Linked DNA regions of Homo sapiens. The main gene of each other region encodes a partner of the protein of the gene in region 3 in a complex. Each region holds a gene or a part of one and is shown on either strand. Other genes may lie near its edges. The genes, in order: POLE4, POLE3 and POLE.

The links.
Region 1: POLE (region 3) and POLE4 share a complex: the UniProt entries of both Homo sapiens proteins name them as parts of the DNA polymerase epsilon complex.
Region 2: POLE (region 3) and POLE3 share a complex: the UniProt entries of both Homo sapiens proteins name them as parts of the DNA polymerase epsilon complex.

The regions. Positions count from the first base shown.
Region 1 is NC_000002.12:74,961,539-74,968,646, reverse strand, and holds part of POLE4 (DNA polymerase epsilon subunit 4), read right to left. Parts: intron 1-7,108. UniProt on the Homo sapiens protein: Accessory component of the DNA polymerase epsilon complex. Participates in DNA repair and in chromosomal DNA replication.
Region 2 is NC_000009.12:113,407,676-113,415,181, forward strand, and holds the start of POLE3 (DNA polymerase epsilon subunit 3), read right to left. Parts: upstream 3,001-7,506; 5' UTR 2,942-3,000; intron 2,734-2,941; 5' UTR 2,619-2,733; coding exon 2,553-2,618; intron 2,466-2,552; coding exon 2,380-2,465; intron 2,054-2,379; coding exon 1,935-2,053; intron 1,309-1,934; coding exon 1,136-1,308; 3' UTR 1-1,135. Other genes in the region: uncharacterized protein C9orf43, read left to right, coding at 3,244-3,248, 5,770-5,969, 6,084-6,219. UniProt on the Homo sapiens protein: Accessory component of the DNA polymerase epsilon complex. Participates in DNA repair and in chromosomal DNA replication.
Region 3 is NC_000012.12:132,677,343-132,684,450, forward strand, and holds part of POLE (DNA polymerase epsilon catalytic subunit A), read right to left. Parts: intron 3,938-7,108; coding exon 3,796-3,937; intron 3,346-3,795; coding exon 3,265-3,345; intron 2,881-3,264; coding exon 2,836-2,880; intron 2,705-2,835; coding exon 2,612-2,704; intron 2,310-2,611; coding exon 2,155-2,309; intron 378-2,154; coding exon 236-377; intron 102-235; coding exon 21-101; intron 1-20. UniProt on the Homo sapiens protein: Catalytic component of the DNA polymerase epsilon complex. Participates in chromosomal DNA replication.

The DNA.
Region 1 (7,108 bases), on a different chromosome or scaffold from region 3:
ACTTGGAAAAAAAAAAAAAACAAAGATCACAGGGCTCTCTTCTAAAGAACCAAATGAACTATATGGAGAAAACTAGAACAGCCTCTAAAACTGCCAGCTTCCCACAGCAAAGCATTCTGCATTCATACCCTCGGGGTCACCCAGGACAACATCTGGTCCCACCCCTGTTCACCCTAAAGCAAAGCTGCCAGGCAACAACCACCCCCTCATCCCATACACACACACACAGTTACCAAACAGCCTTATTCCCTTATTCTTAAATAGAATGAAAATCACCAGGTATCTGAAGAAAGCTACACAGTTGAAAGGATACCAAAACTTTTTTTAATGACCTAGATAATATAGGGAAAATAAAAACATAAGAAAAATAAAGCAAAAACACTTCTAATTTAAAAAAAAATAGAGGTGCTTTTCATAATGGCAAGTTCCTGTTGAGATCAACTGAGAAAGCTAAATAAAATATATAAGAAAAGGAAATCTTCAGGAATTGAAGAGACATCAAGAAAAAGCAAATGTGAAATCTAGAGACAGTAAGAACACAAAACAAACCCAGCCTCTAATGTTACTTCTGCTCTCATGACATCTGCCAATCTGAAAAAGCTGAGAAACTGGGCGGTTATTTGTGTAGGCTGAAGGAACCAAGAGTCAAATCCCTGAGTCTACCCAAGTAAGGAAGTCTGACACCCATCTTTCTTAAGCTAGAGCCCAAAAGGCTGCCCCCTCAGAGTAAGGACGAACTGGAATTTAATCAGTGCCCCTTCACAGGCCTGCAGCCTGAGTTCATATCAGTATGATAGTCCAGAAACCTTCAAGTCTTAGATCTGGATTCAGAAGTCCTGCACTGATAATGGCTGTAGGTGGCTTCAGGAGCAAATGGAAATTTTCTTTGGAGAAAGTATCACCATATGGCCTCAACTTATCTAACAAATACTTTTTAAAGAAAATAACCATTATCCAAAGATAGGCATATAGGGGGATAAAAGGCCATGTGACAGTACCAAAAGAAACAACAGACAAAAAGACAGTCTCAAGAGACTATGGATGTTAGATTCGGCACAGACTAGCAAACAAAAAACTCAAAAGGCTTTGAATATTAGGTCATATATTGGATGGAACATTCACTATAAAACAACTGTGTTTACTATGTTTACAGAACTAAAAGACAAACTTCAAAATACCTGCAGAAAATAAGAACAACAAAAAGTACTCACAAAAATTGCTTGATACTTTATTAAGCTAAAAAAAAAGACAACAGATTTGGAAAGGAACCAAACAGAACTCACAGTACTGAAAAATACAAAAACTGAAACTAAAAAAAAAAAACAAAAAAAATAGTTTAAAGGAAATGAGACAAATGGAGAGAATAAACTGGAAGATCAGAAAAAATTACACAGAATGCATACTAGAGAGGCAAAATTATGATTGAGTTTTTACATATATTTAATGGGAATCCCAGAGAGAGACACAGGAAAGAACAAGGCAGAGCCAATAGCTGAAGAGACACTCGCTGAGAATTTTCCAGGACAGATGAAAGACATTAATCTATAGATTCAAGAAGCTCAAACAAACTACATAAAAAGAAATCCACACCTCTGTACATCAGAGTGAAACCACAGAAAATCAAAGTGAAAATCTTAAAAGCAGACAAAAAACAAAAAGGATAAACTAGCTTCAAAAGAATTACAAACAGGTAATTTCTCTATAGAAAACATAGAAGCCAAAAAAAAAAGCAGTAAAATGATAGCTTCAATGTGCTAAAAGAAAATAATTTTCCACCTAGAATTTATATTCAACAAATTATCCTCCAACAATGAAATTCAAGGCATTTTCATAAGAAAAAAATGAGAGAGTCAGTTACCAGACCATACTAAATGAAGTTCTAAATGATTTATTTCAGGAAGAAGAAAATGATCACAAATGGAGGATCGGAAATACAGAAAGGAGGCCAAGCACAGCAGCTCACGCCTGTAATCCCAGCACTTGGGAGGCCAAGGCAGGCAGATGACTTGAGGTCAGGAGTTTGAGACTAGCCTGGTCAACATGGTGAAACCCCATCTCTACTAAAAATACAAAAAAAACTAGCCAGGCTTGGTGGTGCATGCCTGTAATTCCAGCTACTTGGGAGGCTGAGACATGAGAATCACTTGAACCCAGGAGGCAGAGGTTGCAGTGAGCTGAGATCGCACCACTGCACTCCAGCCTGGGTGACGAAATGAAACTGTCTCAAAAATAATAATAATCCAGAAAGGAAAGAAAAGCAAAGGTAGTATGTGACTAAATCCATATATCATTGACTGCATAATTCAGGAATAAAAATGCCTTATGTAGATTGACAAAGACAAAACAAAAATACATGACAATAACAGCACATAAATTAGGAGACGAGGAATTTGAAAATTGAGTTAATGGATCCTGAGATCTCAATTTGTTGAGAATGAGGGGAAAGGTACTAAATAGGCTTTGATAAATTAAGGACTTACATAGTAACTGATAATCACTAAAAGAATAGAAATAGAGCATATAACTTCCAAGCTGATAGAGGGAAAAAAATCAAATAATAATCCAAAAGAAGGCCAAAAATTGAGAGAAAAAAAAAACAAAACATAAAACAAGCAAATAAAAAGCAGGACAAAATAAGACAATAGAATTCAAACTCATAGATATGACCAATTACATTAAACATAAATAAATGACGTGCTCCAGTTATAGACACAGACTGTCTGAATTTAGGAAAATAATCCAGTTAAATTCTGTTCACAAATATATGGAAAGATAAAAATTAAAAGATTTACAAAAATCCGTACCGTGCAAATAAATACTAACTAAAGAAAGCTGATAAGCTTTAATAATATTAAACAAAATAGACTTTAGGGCTCAAAGCAGTTAGAAATAACAATAGCCAATTTACAAATATAAAAGGCTCAATCACCAACAATATATAACAACATTAAATTTGTATATATCTAATCACATGGTTTCATAATATATAATGAAAGAATAGACCCAGAAATATAAGTAGAAATAGTCCATAATCATAGCAGTAGAGTTTTAACACATAACTCTTTGAAACAGGTAAAATAAGCAGACAGAAGAAATTCAGTAAGAACACAGAAAATCTAAATTATACAATAACCAAATTTGGCATTGCAACCCCTCTAACAGCATCACTGAATTCCATCAAATATTCAAAAACAAAATAATTCCAATCTTTCAATAAGTTTTCCAGAGAATAGATAAGATAAAAAGTGGGCCAGGCGCGGTGGCTCACGCCTGTAATCCCAACACTTTGGGAGGCTGAGGCGGGTGGACCTTGAACACCTGAGGTCAGGAGTTCAAGACCAGCCTGACCAACATGGCAAAACCCCATCTCTACTAAAATACAAAAATTATTGGGGTGTGGTGGTGCGAGCCTGTAATCCCAGCTACTCGAGAGGCTGAGGCAGGAGAATCACTTGAACCCAGGAGGCAGAGGTTGCAATGAGCTGAGATCGTACCACTGTACTCCACCCTGGGCAACAGAGTGAGACTCCATCCCCCACCAAAAAAAAAAAAAAAATAGATAAAAAGTGTATAATTGCCAATGAATTGTATGAAGCTCACACACAGTATGAAAAAAAAAGACTAATCTCTTTTATAAACAGGGATGCAACATTCATAATCTGTTAAAAAATCTACATAAAATCTACAGTAAGCATAATTACTAGGTAAATACTGAAAGCTTTCCCTTGGAAGTCAAAAATGCCTGCTCTTACCACTTCCATGCAACACTGTACTAGAGATTCTAGCCAGTTCAGTAGGGCAAGAAAAAAATATATAAAGATAAGGATTGGAAAGAACTTCACAAAATTATTATTATTGGCAGATGATATACTACTATGTAATTAAAGAAATTCAAAAATCAACAGATATGTCATTCAAATTATTAAGAACTACATCAAAACAAAATTTTTAAGTAAAAAAACTAAGAATAACAGCTAAGAAAGATGCTAGTTGCAAAATTAACATAAAATCAATTATATTTCTAAAAACAGCAATATTTAGAAAATAAAATTTTCTTTAGAAAGATACCATTAACAATATCATCAAAAATATTAAGTACTTACAGAACAACATTTAACAAAATACATCAAGATTTCTTCAGGTAAAATAATTTATTAAAAACTAAATATTAATAAATGTTAAAGTAGACCATATTTATAAAATGAAAGGTTCACTATTGTAAAGATATCGTTTCTTCCCCACAGTAATTTATAAATTCAATACAATCCCAATTAATATCTCTTTTTGTGGAATTTGACAGATTCTAAAATGTACATGAAAATGCAAAGATTCAAAAATAGCAAAGATACTTAGAAAAAAACAAGGTGGGAAGATCTGCTCTCTCAGATAAAGCTACCATAACTGAGACAGTATAGTACTGATGTGAGAATACCCATCAATGGAAAAGAGATACAAATAGATCAATGGAAGAGAACAGAAAGGCCAGAAACAGCCTTGATTGATAAGAAAGGTAGCACTGCAAAGCAGTGAGATGACGATATGGACAAGCGGATATCTAAATATGAAGACACAAATGAGACTGGACCCCCAACCCAATACACAAAAATTCAACTCCACTGTTATGAAAGACAAAACTATAAAGATTTTAGCATATACAGAATGTCTTCATGACAATACAGTAGGGAATATTTTCTAAAATGAACACAAATAGCATTAGTTATAAGGAAAAAAATTGATACATTTGATTACCTTTATATTTTAATGCGTATCAAAAGACAACCTTTTAAGGAGTGAAAAGGCAGGAAAAGATACGTCTCATATACTAAAAAAGATTCATATCTAAAATATAACAAGCACGGCTGGGCGCAGTGGCTCACACCTGTAATCCCAGCACCTTGGAAGGCGGAGGCAGGCAGATCACTTGAGGTCAGGAGTTCGAGACCAGCCTGGCCAACACAGTGAAACCCCATCTCTACCAAAAAAATGCCAAAATTAGCCAGGCGTGGTGGTACACGCCTGTAGTCCCAGTTACGTGAGAATCTCTTGAACGTGGGAGGGGGGGCTGCATTGAGCAGAGATCATGCCACTGCATTCCAGCCTGGATGACAAAGCAAGACTCCACGTCAAAAAAATAAATAAATAAAAATGAAATAAAATACAGCAAGCATTTTTATAAGTCAATAAGAAAAAGGACAAAAATAGCTAACAGAAAAATAGAAGACACCCCTCAAAAAAAAATGGGCATGTATATGAAAAGACGCCCAATGTCACCCACAATCAGGGCAATACGAATTAACACCACATGCAACTATCACTTACATTCAATAACAGCTTGTCAAAAATAAAAAACTCTGGTAATACCAAGTGTGGGTAAGAATGAGAAGCAATGGGAATTATCATGCACTGCTGGTAGGAACGTGAATTGGAATACAGGAAGTTCAGCAGTACCTGCCAAAGATGGAGATACGAATACTCTATATAGCCTAGGTCCCAGCAGTATTATATATTTTATACACACATATACATCCACCCTAGAGAAATATGTACAAGATTGTTCACAGCAAATTGTTTATAATAGGAGAAATAAGGTTTCCCAAATATCAACATTAAAATAGTTCAATTGTGGTACTGTCATATAGCAAGGAACACGAACAAATGAGTTATGTGCAATCACACAGATGAATCTCATAAATGTGTTAACTTAAAACAGTTGTGTGACAGATGTTGGCCAACGAATGCATACGGTTTGGTTCCATTTGCAGAGAGTTCAACAAAACAAAACTAAACCTTAGTGTTCAGGGATGCATGCTTATATAGTAAGCTATAAAGAAAAGGAAGTAATTACCAAAAAAGTTAGGAAACAGTAATGTCGGGAAAGGGGATGAGAATAGGTATGATGAAGAATGAATATACGTGGGACTCTGGGGGCTGACAATACCCTATCTCTTGGCCAAGATGGTGGTTACGAGAGTGTTCATTTTATCATTTATTGACTTTACATTTACAGCACACACTTTACATACGTTGTATTTCATATGACTTAGAAAAAGAATATACATATACACATACAAACATATTTGCATAAAATATCCAGATTACAGAAGAAAACTAGTAACAGTTGTTTGCAGGGAGGGGACCTGAATGAGGAATTAAGGGACAGAGAGAAGGTAGAGAAAGACTGTTTACAGTCCTAGTTTTCAACTTCTACAATCAACCAGAGATAAAGCATGGAAGATTTAATTGTGATAAGATACAAATGTTATTAGCTTTGACAATGTCAAATTACTAGATAACACAAATTGATAGCTAGATGTGAACTAGAAAGGGAAAAGGGATACATGCACTAATAGTCATACTTTACAAACTGGGGAGTCAAGGAATACATTAAAAATTGGACACAACAACCAAAGACATCCTAGTATGTTATATAAACTGTAAAGGTAAAGAAACTAAAACTAGTGATACAACTACCAAAAATCAGAAAGACAGCAGGGGATTTATGGGGTTCTACAGGTTAGCCAAATCTTCATTTATCACAGCAGGAAGTCAATACATACCGTCTACAGCTGACAAACCAATGGGTAAGCATATTAGTTAGAAATAAACGTAACCACCAGAAAAGCTCAAAACACAAACAAAACAGTGGGTGGACGGCAGCTGTACTTCATTATAAGCCATTAGGTAACGATTTGATTTTCAAGTATGGATATGTATTATAAAAACGAAAAAAATGTATTTACTTAGACCATACACACCTAAGGACATAAGAACATTTATTTTACCCAGTAAAAAATAATATAATGCAGACTGAATCCACAGGGGCTATGATGGCTAACATTCAGATCTACCAATGTAGGACAGAGCAAAGGGATTCAATTACAGAGATAAATGAGGATGAAGGCAGAGGATGAAAATAAACACACCAATCATTCAATAAATGGCCATTTATTAAAAATCCAAGCTAAGCACTATGCTGTGATAGAGGCTAGAGTGGAAAACTACATAAGACCACCCCACTTCTATTCCTAGTACCCTCCAGTTTATTTTCCCCAGGGCAGCAATGTTGTGCACTTAAAATACAAATCTGATCATATCACTCATGTCTTTG
Region 2 (7,506 bases), on a different chromosome or scaffold from region 3:
CTCCAGCCTGGGCCACAGAGTGAGAGACTCCATCTCTTAAAAACAAAACGTGAGATTAGAACTAAGGAATCAAGAGATCAGAGGAACTCACACTTTGGAGTATTAAGCAGGTTATCAAAGCTTACAGACTGACAGAAGTGAGAAAAGGAGGCAGATGAGAAAGTGGGATGGGGAGCAGAGGAGAGGCAGGAGAGAGAAAGGAAGCAGGAGGCACAGAGGGAGAAAGCTGTGCCTAGAGAAAATCAAGTTTGGCACTCGTCATGAATTGAAGAATGAAAAGCCATAGTCACAAGTCTGGGAGATGGACTACAAGAAGAGGAAGCCTGGGGTTTTACACCTTCCGGGAGGTGATGACAAATCCTAAAGCTGTACAGTAGCAGAGAGTAAGGTACATCTGACACTATGCCATCTGTTTTTGTAAAAGACACTGGCACCATGTTTGACTAATACCATTCCACACTGCTGATTTAAGAATATCTGTGATCAGATTACTACCACACCAGCAGGCCGATCATCTACAGGCAATATAGAAAGGTTTTGGGCCAAGTGGGTCTATGAAAAACAAAATTCAGTTAATGCTTCTGTCAAGTGAAGAGAGAGAACGGATTTTGTTATTCTCCCACAGCATTTTAGTAGTTTCCTAAAGCTTACTCATTCTGAGCAGTCTTAGTAAGCTACTATTGTCAAAGACTGTGCAATCAAACATAGGCTGACCATAAGCAAAGCCCCAGTTTTTCCTGAGCCTTGGCTGCCTCTGTGATCTGGAACACAGCAGGCAGCATGGAAGTTATTATTACTTATTTGGGGGACTAGGGAAGACTGCAGATCAAAAACCATCTAACCATACATTTAAGTAAACAAAAGCGAGCAAACTGACTAATTTAGTCGTTCAGAATCCCTCTTGTCAAAAGGCCATAACCTTCAGATTGATGAAGCAAAACAGGATTCTGCTACTCAGATGCTCTGAGTTTGGTAAGTGCTGGTTTTGACGGTATTTCTAGTCAGTTTTTATTCTGATCTTTTCAGGCACTTTTGCCTGAGACTACTCTGCCCAGCATGGAAAAGCTTCACAGAAACACGTAGCACGTCTCATTTCAAGTGGTACCTTCCAAGGTGCCACAGTCTCCCGCCCTTTTCAGTTGTCTACTTCTTCCTCTTCATTCTGTTCTTCTTCTTCCAGCCTTTCTTCGTCTTCATCATTGTCCTCATCCCTGCTCTTGTCTTGCTCTTCCGAGTCTGTTTTTTTGTCTTTGTCCTTCTTCTTTTGCTCTGAGGCCTCCTTCTTGCCTTTCTGCTCCCGCCTATATGCTGTAAGGACGGAACAAGGGGTTAGGAGACAGAGCTGAAAGTGAGCCAGACGGACTGCAGGAGCTAATTACATTGTACAATTGGAAAAACGGAGGCAGATGGGCGCGGTGGCTCACGCCTGTAATCCCAGCACTTTGGGAGGCTGAGACGGGCGGATCACCTGAGGTCAGGAGTTCAAGACCAGCCTGGCCAATATGGTGAAACCCCGTCTCTACAAAAATAAAAAATGAGCCGCACGTGGTGGCGTGCGCCTGTAGTCCCAGCTACTCGGGAGGCTGAGGCAGGAGAATTGCTTGAACCCAGGAGGAGGAGACTGCGGTGAGCTGAGATCCCATCACTGCACTCCAGCTTGGGTGACAGAGCAAGACTCCGTCTCAAAAAAAAAAAAAAAAAAACAAAAACAAGAAAAGCAAGACAAAAACAAAAACGGAGGCAGAGAAGGAAAAATAACTTGCTCAGCATTACAAAACAGATCTGAGGTGGTGCCCACCGAACTGGGTCGAGTCACATCAAGTGCTGGCTTACTGGACTTAAAGGGACCCGCGCTGAGAAGGCTCAGGGCCTGGTGAACAGGTCACACAGGATGACCATCTTCTATGTGGTTTAGAAGACAAGAGGCTCGTTACCTTCCAGAGCTTCTTTCAATGGGGTAACGAACCGCTGGAACTCCATCTCTTCCATGGCTGAGAGCACATCACTGGCATTCAGCGTCTTCCGCTTTCCTTTCATTGCAAAGTTGTTAGCACTGAGAGAAGAGAAAGGCTGTCAGACTCCCTCTTGTTTGTAAGGCGTGAGTGGGAAAAGGAGCACCCAGAGGTGGAACGGGAAAGCCTGCCTCTTACATGTATGGATTTTGGTGTGACAGGGATAAGTCCTTCCCTTCTCTGCACAAAAAAGCTAAAGCAAAGTGATTTTGTTGTGTTATTTTGCTTCAGAACTTGTAAAAACTGGCAGAGGACTGTGAACATGTCCCCACCGAGGGAGAACACAATCGTTGGGGTTTGTAGGCTCCCAGCCAGCAACTCCCAGCCAGGTATCCCCGCGCCTCCCTTATGCCTCTGTCCCGCTCACCAGGATGTGGCGTACAGCACGAAGACGCTGGCGGCGCGGGAGATGGCGCTCCGGGCCTCCTTGGAGATGTTGACACCGTCCGGGAGCTGCGAGGAGACCGGGGGTGAGCAAAGCTGCCGTTCCAGCACCTGCTTCCCTCCTGCCCGTTCGTCCGCCCCCCCCGAGCTGCTCACCGCCTCCTTGATGATCCTGGTGATCACGGCATTGGGCAGGTTTAGGTCCTCGGGCCTCTCCGCCATTGCCGCCGCTGGGGCTTAAACTCCCCTTCGCCTCCGCTTCAGGGAGCTACTGCGTCCGGACTTCCCGCGTCGCTACGGTCTGACCCTGCGAGGTTTCCGTTCCGCCCCACGTGGCCTACAGTGTCCCACAGTGCTCTGAGCGCCATAGCCTCCCTCCTCCCCCCACAGCCCCGCCTCCGCCTCAAATACCGGCGCATCCGGATTTTGAAGCCGCAGTGGTTTTGGCCCGCCAAGGCTTCCATCCAACCCTACCGCACCCCGCACGCCCCTCCCCAGGTCCATTTCTCTGCTTCTCGCCATCGCCGCGTCGGGAACCTTCTCACCAACTTATTTGGCTCAATGGAGCTTCCGTCCGTTTCCCATGGTGCCCTGCGCCGCTGCTGGGTGACGGCGCGGCCGGGCGCAGCGCGTGGGAGACGAAGGCGTGGCTGACTCGGCGGGGCGGATCCCTTTAGGACCCGAGGCAGGCTCTGGGCCCGCCGGGTCCGTTAATCTCACCGCGCCGCAAGGGGCCACGTTTTACCACTTGATTTAGCAACCCTAAGCGGTTTGGAATCTGCTTTGCTCTCACAGGACCTCAGCCCGTCGTGATCAGATTCTCCCACTTTCTTTTTTCTTTCCTGGAATGGAGTGGGCAGTCTTTTTCCATCTCTACCGAAGTTGATGTTCATTTTTAATCTTTTCGCCCCTCACGCTTTTGTAATAATGGTACTAAGACTGAGTGTTATTTAGATTTTATTGTTGTTGTTTGTGTTTAACGCGAACTATTTAGGCAGCCCAGGGATAATGCTGGCCATATAGAGATGCGCCTGATTAGGTCTCAGGAGTCAATTCGGACTGGGCAGGTAACGAAAGGGCGAGAAGCAGCCTTTTCACTGTATGAAGAATGCAACGTCACATTCGCTTTCAAAAACAAACCGTGTTAAAATTGTATTTATTTTTCAGTTAAATTGTTCATCATACATTTTTTCCAGTTAAAACCATTCTCAAGGTTTTGCAATGGCGTTTCTTTTTTTTTTTTTTTGAGACAGTCTCACTCTGTCGCCCAGGTTGGAGTGCAGTGGCGCCGATTTCGGCTCACTGCAAGCTCCGCCTCCCGGGTTCACGCCATTCTCCTACCTCAGCCTCCTTAGTAGCTGGGACTACAGACGCCCGCCACCACGCCCGGCTAATTTTTTTGTATTTTTAGTAGAGACAGGGTTTCACCGTGTTAGCCAAGATGGTCTCGATCTCCTGACCTCGTGATCCGCCCGCCTCGGTCTCCCAAAGTGCAGGGATTACAGGCGCCAGTCACCGCGCCCGGCGCAATGGTGTTTTAAGTTGTTTTTAAGTTATTTTTATATTAAGTTCGTAGAAATTCTCACTCCCACTGATTTTATTTATTTTTTAATTTTTAAAATTTCTTGACAGGGTCTCACTCCGTCCCCCAGGCTGGAGTGCAGCGGCACGGTCTCGGCTCACTGTAGCCTCGACCTCCCTGGCTCAGGTGGTCCTCCCACCTCAGCCCCAAATAGCTGGGGCTACAGGTGCGTTCCATCACACCCAGCTAATTTTTTGTATTTTTCGTAGAGACAGGGTTTCACCATGTTGCCCAGGCTGGTCTCGAACTCCAGGGCTCAAGTGATTCTCCCTCGGCCTTGCAAAGTGCTGAGATTACAGGCATGAGCCACGGCGCCCAGCCTCCCACTGAGAATTAATGCTGCTTTTTTTTCCCGTCAAGCATGCAGTCCCAAGTCGCCCTGTAGTTTTCCTGCTTTCGATAGAAGCCTGATTATAGAGAAATATTTTAAAACAAAAGAGCAAATGCTATGATAAATGGCAACTGAAAGTGTTTCAATTAGAGACCATAAGGTCTGGTGGGGGAACTCCGCTTGGATAGAACAGACCTGGCTGAAACCATCAGGGCTGCTCAGCGCTAGTCAGTTGCTCTTCAACTGGAATTGGGCTCAGTGTTGTCAAGTATTTTGGTCCCTAAAAGGACATTGTGGGCTATTTCAATTTTAAAATTGATTCAAATTTAAAATTGATTCAAAGTGCTAGCCAAACAAAACAAGTAATAGGCCAGGTGCAATCCCAGGCTGATAGTTTATCTTTGATCTAAATTATGAAACTGTTTAGAACAGGGAGTTTGTTTATTACTGTTCATGTCCAAAGCAGGTCCCCTCACATATTTAGTAATCAATAAATGTGTTGAATAAAAGAAAGAAATGGACACTGTCCTTAAAAAGTTCTTAGGAATAAGGTGGTAGTTAGTGATTGCCTAAAACACCTCTAGAAAGGAAAAGATGATAATATTTATTGAACACCTCCCATGAATAAAAGTACATTATCTCATTTAATGCTTCTGCAGTCCTACTTAGGGATTCCCTGCCTTCTGCTTATGTTATTTATTATTTTTTGTGGAGAGGGGGTAACTCATCTTGGCCTACCAAAGTGCTGTGGTTACAGACCTGAGACACCAAGTCAGGACCCCTCCCCCTACTTGAGAGAGAGGTGTGAAGACCCTTGTCAAAGGCCATATGGCCAATGAATGAAAAGCTAATGGCCTCTGATGCAACTAGCAGTGTCTAGTGATTTGCTATTTGAGCAAACACATTCATTGCTGGTGGGTATTTTATCTGCCTGCATGGGAACTGAAGCACATTGAAAAATGAAACATGTCTTCCAGAAGTTTGGGCCTTCTAAGACACTTCTGTGACTACTTTGGTCATAATTTGATAATGCTTTTTGGAGATGGTGGCATCTTCTCCCTGATGACTAACGAAGGGGAAAAGGAAAGGATGCAAATATTTATTTGGAACAATATGCCAGGCTTTTAATATCCATTAACTAATTTTTATAATGACCCTGTGAAATAAGCTTATCCTCATTTTACAGTGGAGGCAACAGGCTCAGACTGGTTAAGTCCCAGGTCACTCAGCTATTAAATAGCCAATTAGGAGACCTGAAGTCCTGCTCTCAAACTCTTGCCATTCTACTTTATGCTGAGCTATTTTCATACTTGCTTGTTATCCAATCTTTAATTATTTTGTGGCCATCATTTACCTATATAGGTTCAATAGAAATATTTTATACTGTGAGTTCAAATTAACATCTGGACTGTATGGCTAATGTATAATACTCCCTAATTATGTAGCTGTTGATTTTCCAGAGCACTAGAATGCTGCAGGGTTGGCCTTTGGCCTAAACCATTTCTAGCTATGGACTTGCCAGATGAGAGCCAGTGGGACGAAACCACCTGTGGCTTGGCTGTTTGTCAGCACCCACAATGCTGGGCAACTATCCGCCGCATTGAGAGGGGCCATCCTCGAATCCTCGGCTCATCCTGCAAAACTCCCCTGGATGCTGAAGGTGAATTAGCCAGCTTCTGTCCTCTCCCTCACGAGGTCCTTAACGTATTTATGTATGTGGCTCCCTTTCTCCAGGCAGCAGGTTAACATGTTTTCTTCTGGTCTGCCTTCTTAGATAAACTCCCAGTGCTCACCGTGGTAGACATCTTAGATTCCGGCTTTGCAGCTCATCATTTACCAGAATGTACCTTTACTAAGGCCCATTCTTTATTGTCTCAGAGTTCAAAGTTTTACTCCAAATTTCATGGCAGGTAAATTATCATGGAATCTTCCTTTACAGCCTATTGTCTCAAAATTCTGGATTATGATTTTCCTTATCCATTAGTATACTTTGAGAAAGCTAGATTAAAAAGAAAATACCAATTGGGTTAAAGAAGTGGTGAATAGGCAGTGGGAAACAGAAAGAAACCCTTCCTGCTTGTGCCCTAGGAATTGGTTAATTTGGGAGGTATATTGGTTCGGTAGGGCTGTTATAACAAAATACCATAGACTGGGTGCCTTAAACAACAAAATTTATTTTCTTGTAATTCTTGAGGCTAGAAGTCCAATATCAAGGTGTTGCCAAGACTGTTTGCTTTTGAGACCACTCTTGGTTTGTAGATGGTAATTTTTTATACCCTGTGTCCTTTTTATTTATTTTTTTTGAGACAGGGTCTCACCCTGTCACCCAGGCTGGACTAGAGTGCAATGGTGCGATCATAGCTCACTGCAGCCTCAACTTTCTGGGCTCAAGCGATCCTCCCACCTCAGCCTCCCAAGTAGCTAGGACTACAAGTGTGCACCACCACGCCTGGTTAATTTTTTTTTTTTTTTTTACTTTTATTAGAGACGAGGTCTTGCTTTGTTGCCTGGGCCGGTCTTGAACTCCTGGCCTCAAGTGATCCTCCTGCCTTGGCCTCCCAAATTGTTGGGATTACAGGCATGAGACACCATACTGAGCCCCTCTCCCTATGTGTTAACATGGTCTTCCCTCTGTGCGTCTGTGTCTTAATTTCTTCTTACAAGGACACCAGTCTTACTGGGTTAGGGCCCCCTCATGTGACTTCATTTTTACCTTAATAACTTTTTAAAAAACCATATCTCCAAATACAGTCAAATTCTGAAGTACTAGTTGGGACTTTAACGATGAATTTTGGGAGGACACAATTCAGCCCATCTTATCAGCATCTGTATGTACGGACAGAAAACCATCCATATATGCCATCTTTCTTTTTTCTTTTTTGAGACAGAGTCTCACTCTGTCACCCAGGTTGGAGTGCAATGGCACGACCTCTGTCTCCCAGGTTCAAGCAATTCTCATGCCTCAGCCTCCCGAGTATCTGGAATTACAGGCGTGCACCACCATGCGTGGCTGATTTTTATATTTTTAGTAGAGACAGAGTTTCACCATGTTGGCCAGGCTGGTCTCAAACTCGTGACCTCAAGTGATCCACCCGCCTCAGCCTCCCAAAGTGCTAGAATTACAGGTGTGAGCCACCATGCCCAACCCTGTCTTTCTATTTCCTTTTTTTTTGGTGGGGGATAGGGTCTTACTTTGT
Region 3 (7,108 bases):
GTAACACAAGCAAAACTTACAGGTCGTTCAACAAGGTCATCTCGGCGGGTGATTTCTACCGGAAAAGCATTTCCTCGGTATCTGACATTGTACCAATGAGCCTGCAAAACACACAGTGTGCTAACTAGAGTTCTACATCCAGGAAAGTCTATTCTTCTGTGGATTCACCCATAATGATCATCTCCTGGCTGTTAGGAAATTCATGTGAGCAGCGACCCAACCCTGCCCCACTCACCACGTGGATCTTCAGGTCAATGGAGAGGCGGATGTGGTAGGGAACATCGTACTCGCGCATGTCCACAATGTTGTCCAACTGGTCAGCTATCTTCTTAGAGGTTTCCTCTTCATCAGTAATGACACCGCCCCTCTGCAGAACACTAGGAATTAACAAGAGAGCAACTAACTCAGCTGCCAGGGTCTGGAGGAGGTGAGACCAGAGTTCCAACTCAGTAGGAAGAGGTGAGACCAGAGTTCAAACCGAGGAAACACAAAAGGTAAATTGATGTGGTTTCAACGACCAAGGCAGTCCTTCCTTTAAGAATGGCTTGGACTGGGCCAGGCGTGGCAGCTCACGCCTGTAATCCCAGCACTTTGGGAGGCCAAGGAAGGCGGATCACCCGAGGTCAGGAGTTCGAGACGAGCCTGGCCAACACGACGAAACCTCATCTCTACTAAAAATACAAAAATTAGCCAGGCGTGGTGGCGCATGTCTGTAACCCCAGATACCTGGGAGGCTGAGGCAGGAGAATCACTTGAACCCAGGAGGCGGAGGTTGCAGTGAACCCAGATTGCGCCACTGCACTCCAGCCTGGGCAACAGAGCGAGACTCCATCTCAAAAAAATAAAGAATAGCTTGGATGATAACTCTACAGACAGGAGAAAATTCAGTGTAAGATGTATTCATTTTATATGATGTGAGTTACACCCCAACTAGAAAAAAAAAAAGAGGGCCAAGCATGGTGGCTTATGCCTCTAATCCCAGCACTCTGGGAGGCAGGAGGATCGCTTCGGCCCAGGAGTTCAAGACAGGCCTGGGCAACATAGGGAGACTCATCTCTACAAAAGTAATAATAATAATAATAATAATTAGCCAGGCATGGGGTACACACCTGTGATCCCAGTTACTCAGGAGGCTGAGGTGAAAGGATCGCTTGAGCCCAGGAGTTCGAGGCCACAGTGAGCTATGATTGCACCACTGCACTCCAGCCTGGGCAACAGAGCAAGACCCTGTCTCAAAACAAATAAGTAAATAGAAGAAAAAAGAAAGAAAACATTAAGTGCTGCCAGTCAGGAGAGCCAGGCATGACCATCCCACCATGGTCCTGATACTCAGGAGGCTGCCTCATGCAGGCTGAAGAGCAGGCCTGGGCTTCACACAGCCTGTGCATGGGTCTCTGCCATGTCTAAAGAAGTGGCCCACCATTGCGGCCACTATTGGCCTATAAGCTCAAATACTGAACGGGCTATTCAGGGGGAAAAAGACAGACGAGTCTCAGATATGGCTCAAGTCTCTGAGGACTCAGTCTCTGATCACACCTTCCAATATTTCAAAAAGCAACTTGTGGCATTGCCAGGGAAGGCGGACTCCGGGTAGGGACTGTAGAAATGTTCAGCATCCCAAACTGATCCTCTTTTGTCAGAGGGTAAGGTAGGTTCTTCCGAAGTCATCTAAACTTCATTACTCAAGATTTTCTCTTCCTAACTGGTTACTTTGCATCCTATTATTGTTGATGCTCAAATACTTGAAGAACAGTGTTTAGTGTTCTAGGCTTAAATTTCTGTGGACGATACCCAAGGTTCTCTGGAGATGTGCTGTGTAAATCTCAGCACTTAATGAAATTCATAGATGGATTGTGTTAGGGCAGTAGGATGAGGGATCTTTTCCCCTCTAAGGTGACTTTACTATTACAACCACTCAATTTTAGAGCCATAAACCCACCCCTCCATTGGAAAAGAGAGCTAACACATAAAATATAACCTGGGAAGCCACTGTTTATTTAACACAGAACATACAGAAATCTCTACCTAATTGCTCAAGTTTTCCGTATCAAACAGAGCCAGCCATTAAGGTAACTTTGTTGCTACGTGTTCCTGTCTCCTATCCATCTTGTCGTTCTGAACCGCTGATGCTTTGCTCACAAGACCAAAGTTTACCTGGAAAGCAGAGCTGTGTACGCGTCGCTGGCGTGATCCTGCTCCCTGTTCTTCTTCACGGCAGGGGAGATCTCCTTCCTCACTTTGACAAGATCCTCCACAGTGTGGAAGGACAGCCTGATGTAATTTCGCTTCAAACCCACCAAGTGATTTGGCTATAATGCGAAGAGATCACGCTCATTGGTTCAAGAGAAATAGGACTTTATGGGTGAGAGGGTAAACACTCAAAGGTAAACACACAAGTCAAAGAGTTGGCGACTTCAAGGCACCTTGTCCAACTCTGCACGTGGCACCAACTAACACCACTAGAGCTCTTTGGAAGGAATTTTATAGACGGTCACCACACCGCCCCATCACCCAACAGATGACCTGAATTTCTACCTCTTCCGATCCCACCTGCCAGGAACAATGTAGACTCTGGCCTCATTTACCCCTGGAAAGTCTGGGTGATACTCACCAAGTCCAGATCCTCTTTGGGGACAGTCTCCACTTTTGCAATTTTGCCCTGAAACTTCTTGGAGAGAAAAGATGAAACTTCTCGCTCACAACCCTAATCAGGATCAGAATGAAAAGGCTTTCCATTGGTAAAATACATTTCCTTCCTTGCCTATTTCCCAGTTGCAAAGCCCACCACAGAATGACACACAGGTCGTCTGACCTGAGTCTATGAAACACACTCACCTTTCTGGTCGCAATGTAGAAATACGGTTTATAGGGCAAAGCCACCTGTTAAGAGTCACCAACCCATCCAGGGGTGATGAGAAAGAAGAAAGCGAGAGAAAAGTGAAAACACATTGCTTGCTCCTATATCCCATGAACAGCCTAGGGCCAGGGTAGCCTTGACCTTGGTAGCATACAGGAAGTCAGAATGCGCACTTTTCACAGGGGCAAGAATCTGAAAGACACGCTACTTCTCACCATTCAGAGTCTTCCTGAACTGACCTCTCTCAGGACATCTTACGTGATGACTGATGGGGCCTCCAGGGGCCCGAGTTCTGCTGGGCTATGGGCTGCTGTGCACTGGAAGCCTCCCATGCCCTCCCTGACAGTCACAGAGCTACATGAACACCCATAAAAGTGGGTTTTAGCTTGTCGCAGTCAGGGGCTTACCTTAAATCTGCTTCCGTCATCTTGAATAAAGTAGTAATCCACTGCACTGCCTAAGCGCTTATCTTCATCTAAAATCTCGGTCTACAAGAGAATCAGTCAACACAGACACAAGACCATCCTCTACACAGTTAGAGAAACTTTCCTCCTACCTTTCGGGAAACTCAGCACTTTAGAAACAAACCCTCTCATCTAGGTCTTTACTCCACCCCTACATTAACACTACCAGCCTTATTCACAAGAACCACACTGTAACGGCCTCCAAATGGGGATCTCTCTCAATTTCTCCCTCATAATCCTTGAAAGCTTTATTCTGATGGCTAAAAGAGATGCCCATCACCTCCGGCTTCTCACAGTGGCCTCTCTGTGGCCCTCAATGACGTTAAAGAGGAAAGGAGAGCTGGGAACCTTCACATCTCCCACCTGATTCACTCAAAGTTCCCTCATGTGTCCCCCACTCTTTAGATAAGGACCACGCTATGACCAGAAGGGTTGCAGCCATATTCCTGGGTGGGAGAAGGACCTAGTGCTTACAGGATGCATGTTAATGAGCCAGCCTGTCTTCTCACCAGGCTCCTTCAGCCGCTCAAAACCAAACCGCAAATCCATCTTATCCGTCCACTGACTCCGTTCCAGGCGCTTGAGTGCCGAAACTGAGGAAGTGGCGCCATCATCCCTGAGTGAAAGAAGGGAACCCCGTGCTTAATTTGTAATGCCACCTGCTGCTGCTTCTTTTTTTCTTTTTTTTCTTTTTTTTTGAGACGGAGTCTTGCTCTGTCGCCTAGGCTGGAGTGCAGTGGTGTGATCTCGGCTCACTGCAAGCTCCGCCTCCCGGGTTCACGCCATTCTCCTGCCTCAGCCTCCCGAGTAGCTGGGACCACAGGCGACAGCCACCACGCCTGGCTAATTTTTTGTATTTTTAGTAGAGACGGGGTTTCACCGTGTTAGCCAGGATGGTCTCGATCTCCTGACCTTGTGATCCGACTGCCACCTACTTCTGCAACCCTCATCCCACCTAGTGTTAAGTGTTTCGGATATGACAGGGTATATATATTCCTGAAAAACCCCGAGCTTGGAAAAAGGCTCATTAAGATAAAAGGACTCATTGGAAAAACACAATTAGGGCAGGCCCTTCAAAACCTGTTCAACTTTATAACCAGAATACTAACAAAAAGAGTCATGATGGCTAGACACTGTTGCCTCTTGGGACACTAAAAATGCATAAAACTAGCCAGACGCGGTGGCTCATGAGAGTGCATGTAACACTGACATGATTTGAATAAAACAGACGGATTGTCAGGCCAGGCACAGTGGCTCACGCCTGTAATCCCAAAACTTTGGGAGGCCAAGGCGGGTGGATCACCTGAGGTCAGGAGTTTGAGACCAGCCTGGCCAGCATGGTGAAACCCTGTCTCTACTAAAAATACAAAAAATTAAATCCCAGCACCGTGGGAGGCCGAGGCGGGCGGATCACGAGGTGAGGAGATCTAGACCATCCTGCTAATACAGTGAAACCCCGTCTTTACTAAAAATACAAAAACTTAGCCAGGCGTGGTGGTGGGTGCCTATAGTCCCAGCTACTCAGGAGGCTGAGGCAGGAGAATGGCGTGAACCCAGGAGGTGGAGCTTGCAGTGAGCCGAGAACGCGCCACCACACTCCAGCCTGGGCAGCAGAGCGAGACTCCGGCAAAAAAAAAAAAATAAATAAAAATAAATAAATAAATAAATAAATTAGCTGGGTGTGGTGGGGTGGGCCTATAATCCCAGCTACTCAGGAGGCTGAGGCAGGAGAATCACTTGAACCCTAGAGGTGGAGGTTGCAGTGAGCCAAGATTGCGCCACTGCACTCCAGCCTGGGTGACAAGAGTGAAACTTCGTCTCAAAAAAATAAATAAAATAAAATAAGATAAAATAAATTAGATGGGTCGTCTCAATGTCAATTTCTTAGTTGTGACAATTGTACTCTACTTACACAAGATGTTATGGTGAAGTGATACGGGAATCTCTGTATCATTTCTGACAAATGCATGAGAATCAATCTACAATTACCTCAAAAAAAGGTTGAGGGCCAGGCGCAGTGGCTCACAACTGTAATCCCAGCACTTTGGGAGGCCAAGGAGGGTGGATGACTTGAGGCCAGGAGTTTGAGACCATCCTGGCTAACATGGTGAAACCCCGTCTCTACTAAAAATACGAAAAATTAGCCGGGCGTGGTGGCGGGCGCCTGTAGTCCCAGCTACTCGGGAGGCTGAGGCAGGAGAATGGCGTGAATCCAGGAGGCAGAGCTTGCAGTGAGCTGGGATCATGCCACTGCACTCCAGCCTGGGCGACAGAGCGAGACTCCGTCTAAAAAAAAAATAAAATAAAAAAAGAACAAGATAAAAAAAGAAAGGAAGACCCTTCCTTTGTCTGAAGGTATTCCTTGGATCACCTTCAACTCAAGAGCAGAATGACCATATTCCAAGACTAGGATCCTTACTTCTCATGAAAGATTATAACCACTTGTGGTAGGCAGGCAGGATGACACCCCCCATGAAAGACCCACATCCTAATCCCCCAAACCTGTGAATGTTATCTTACAAGACAAAAGGGTCTTTGCAGATCTGACTAAATTAAGGGCCTTGAGATTCTGCTTAGCTGGGTGGGCGCAGTGTAATCACAAGAATCCTTGTAGAGTGAGGCAGGAGAGCTAGAGTCAGGAAGGAGAAAGGGATGGGAGAGAGAGGGTAGGGGGGAGAGGAGATGCAACCCTTGGTTCTGAAGATGAAGAAGCAGCAAGGAAACAGATTCTCCCCCGGGAACCATCACAATAAATATAACCAACCAGACACTTTCATATTACGACTTCTGACTTCTAAAACCGTAAGAGAATAAATTTATATAGTCACTAAGTGATCATGTGTTACTGCAGCAATAGGAAACTGATACACCACCATACTGTATAATAAAGGTTTAATCTTTTAAATAGTTGAATGCACCCGTAATCAAAAACACAGAAAAACTATATTCCAAATCTTGCTAGAGAACAGCCTCAGTTCTGAGTCCCAGATCTTTATCAAAATCAAGAGTGAATGAAGTGCTATTTACGAGGCATCACCTCTTAACAGGGGCGCACGGCCCTCTATGCCAGTCCTCCAAATATCCTTGCCTCAAGTAAGTTGGATTAAGTAGACTAGAAAACTGCTCACTGGGACCATATTTCCTCCCAAAACTGCTTTCTCTGAGCTGTGTATCTCACTTTTAATCCAGGGACAGTAAGAAATCTGAAAAATGGGGATAAGTGTCACACAGGGAGCTACCATCGACTGGTTACTATATCACACCGTCCCAGTACTCCACACAGGCTCTCATTCACAGAGAGCTACCATTGACTGGTTACTATATCACACCGTCCCAGTACTCCACACAGGCTCTCATTCACAGAGAGCTACCATTGACTGGTTACTGTATCACACCGTCCCAGTACTCCACACAGGCTCTCATTCACAGAGAGCTACCACTGACTGGTTACTGTATCACACCGTCCCAGTACTCCACACAGGCTCTCATTCACAGAGAGCTACCATTGACTGGTTACTGTATCACACCGTCCCAGTACTCCACACAGGCTCTCATTCACAGAGAGCTACCATTGACTGGTTACTGTATCACACCGTCCCAGTACTCCACACAGGCTCTCATTCACAGAGCTACCATTGACTGGTTACTATATCACACCGTCCCAGTACTCCACACAGGCTCTCATTCACAGAGAGCTACCATTGACTGGTTACTGTATCACACCGTCCCAGTACTCCACACAGGCTCTCATTCACAGAGCTACCATTGACTGGTTACTATATCACAC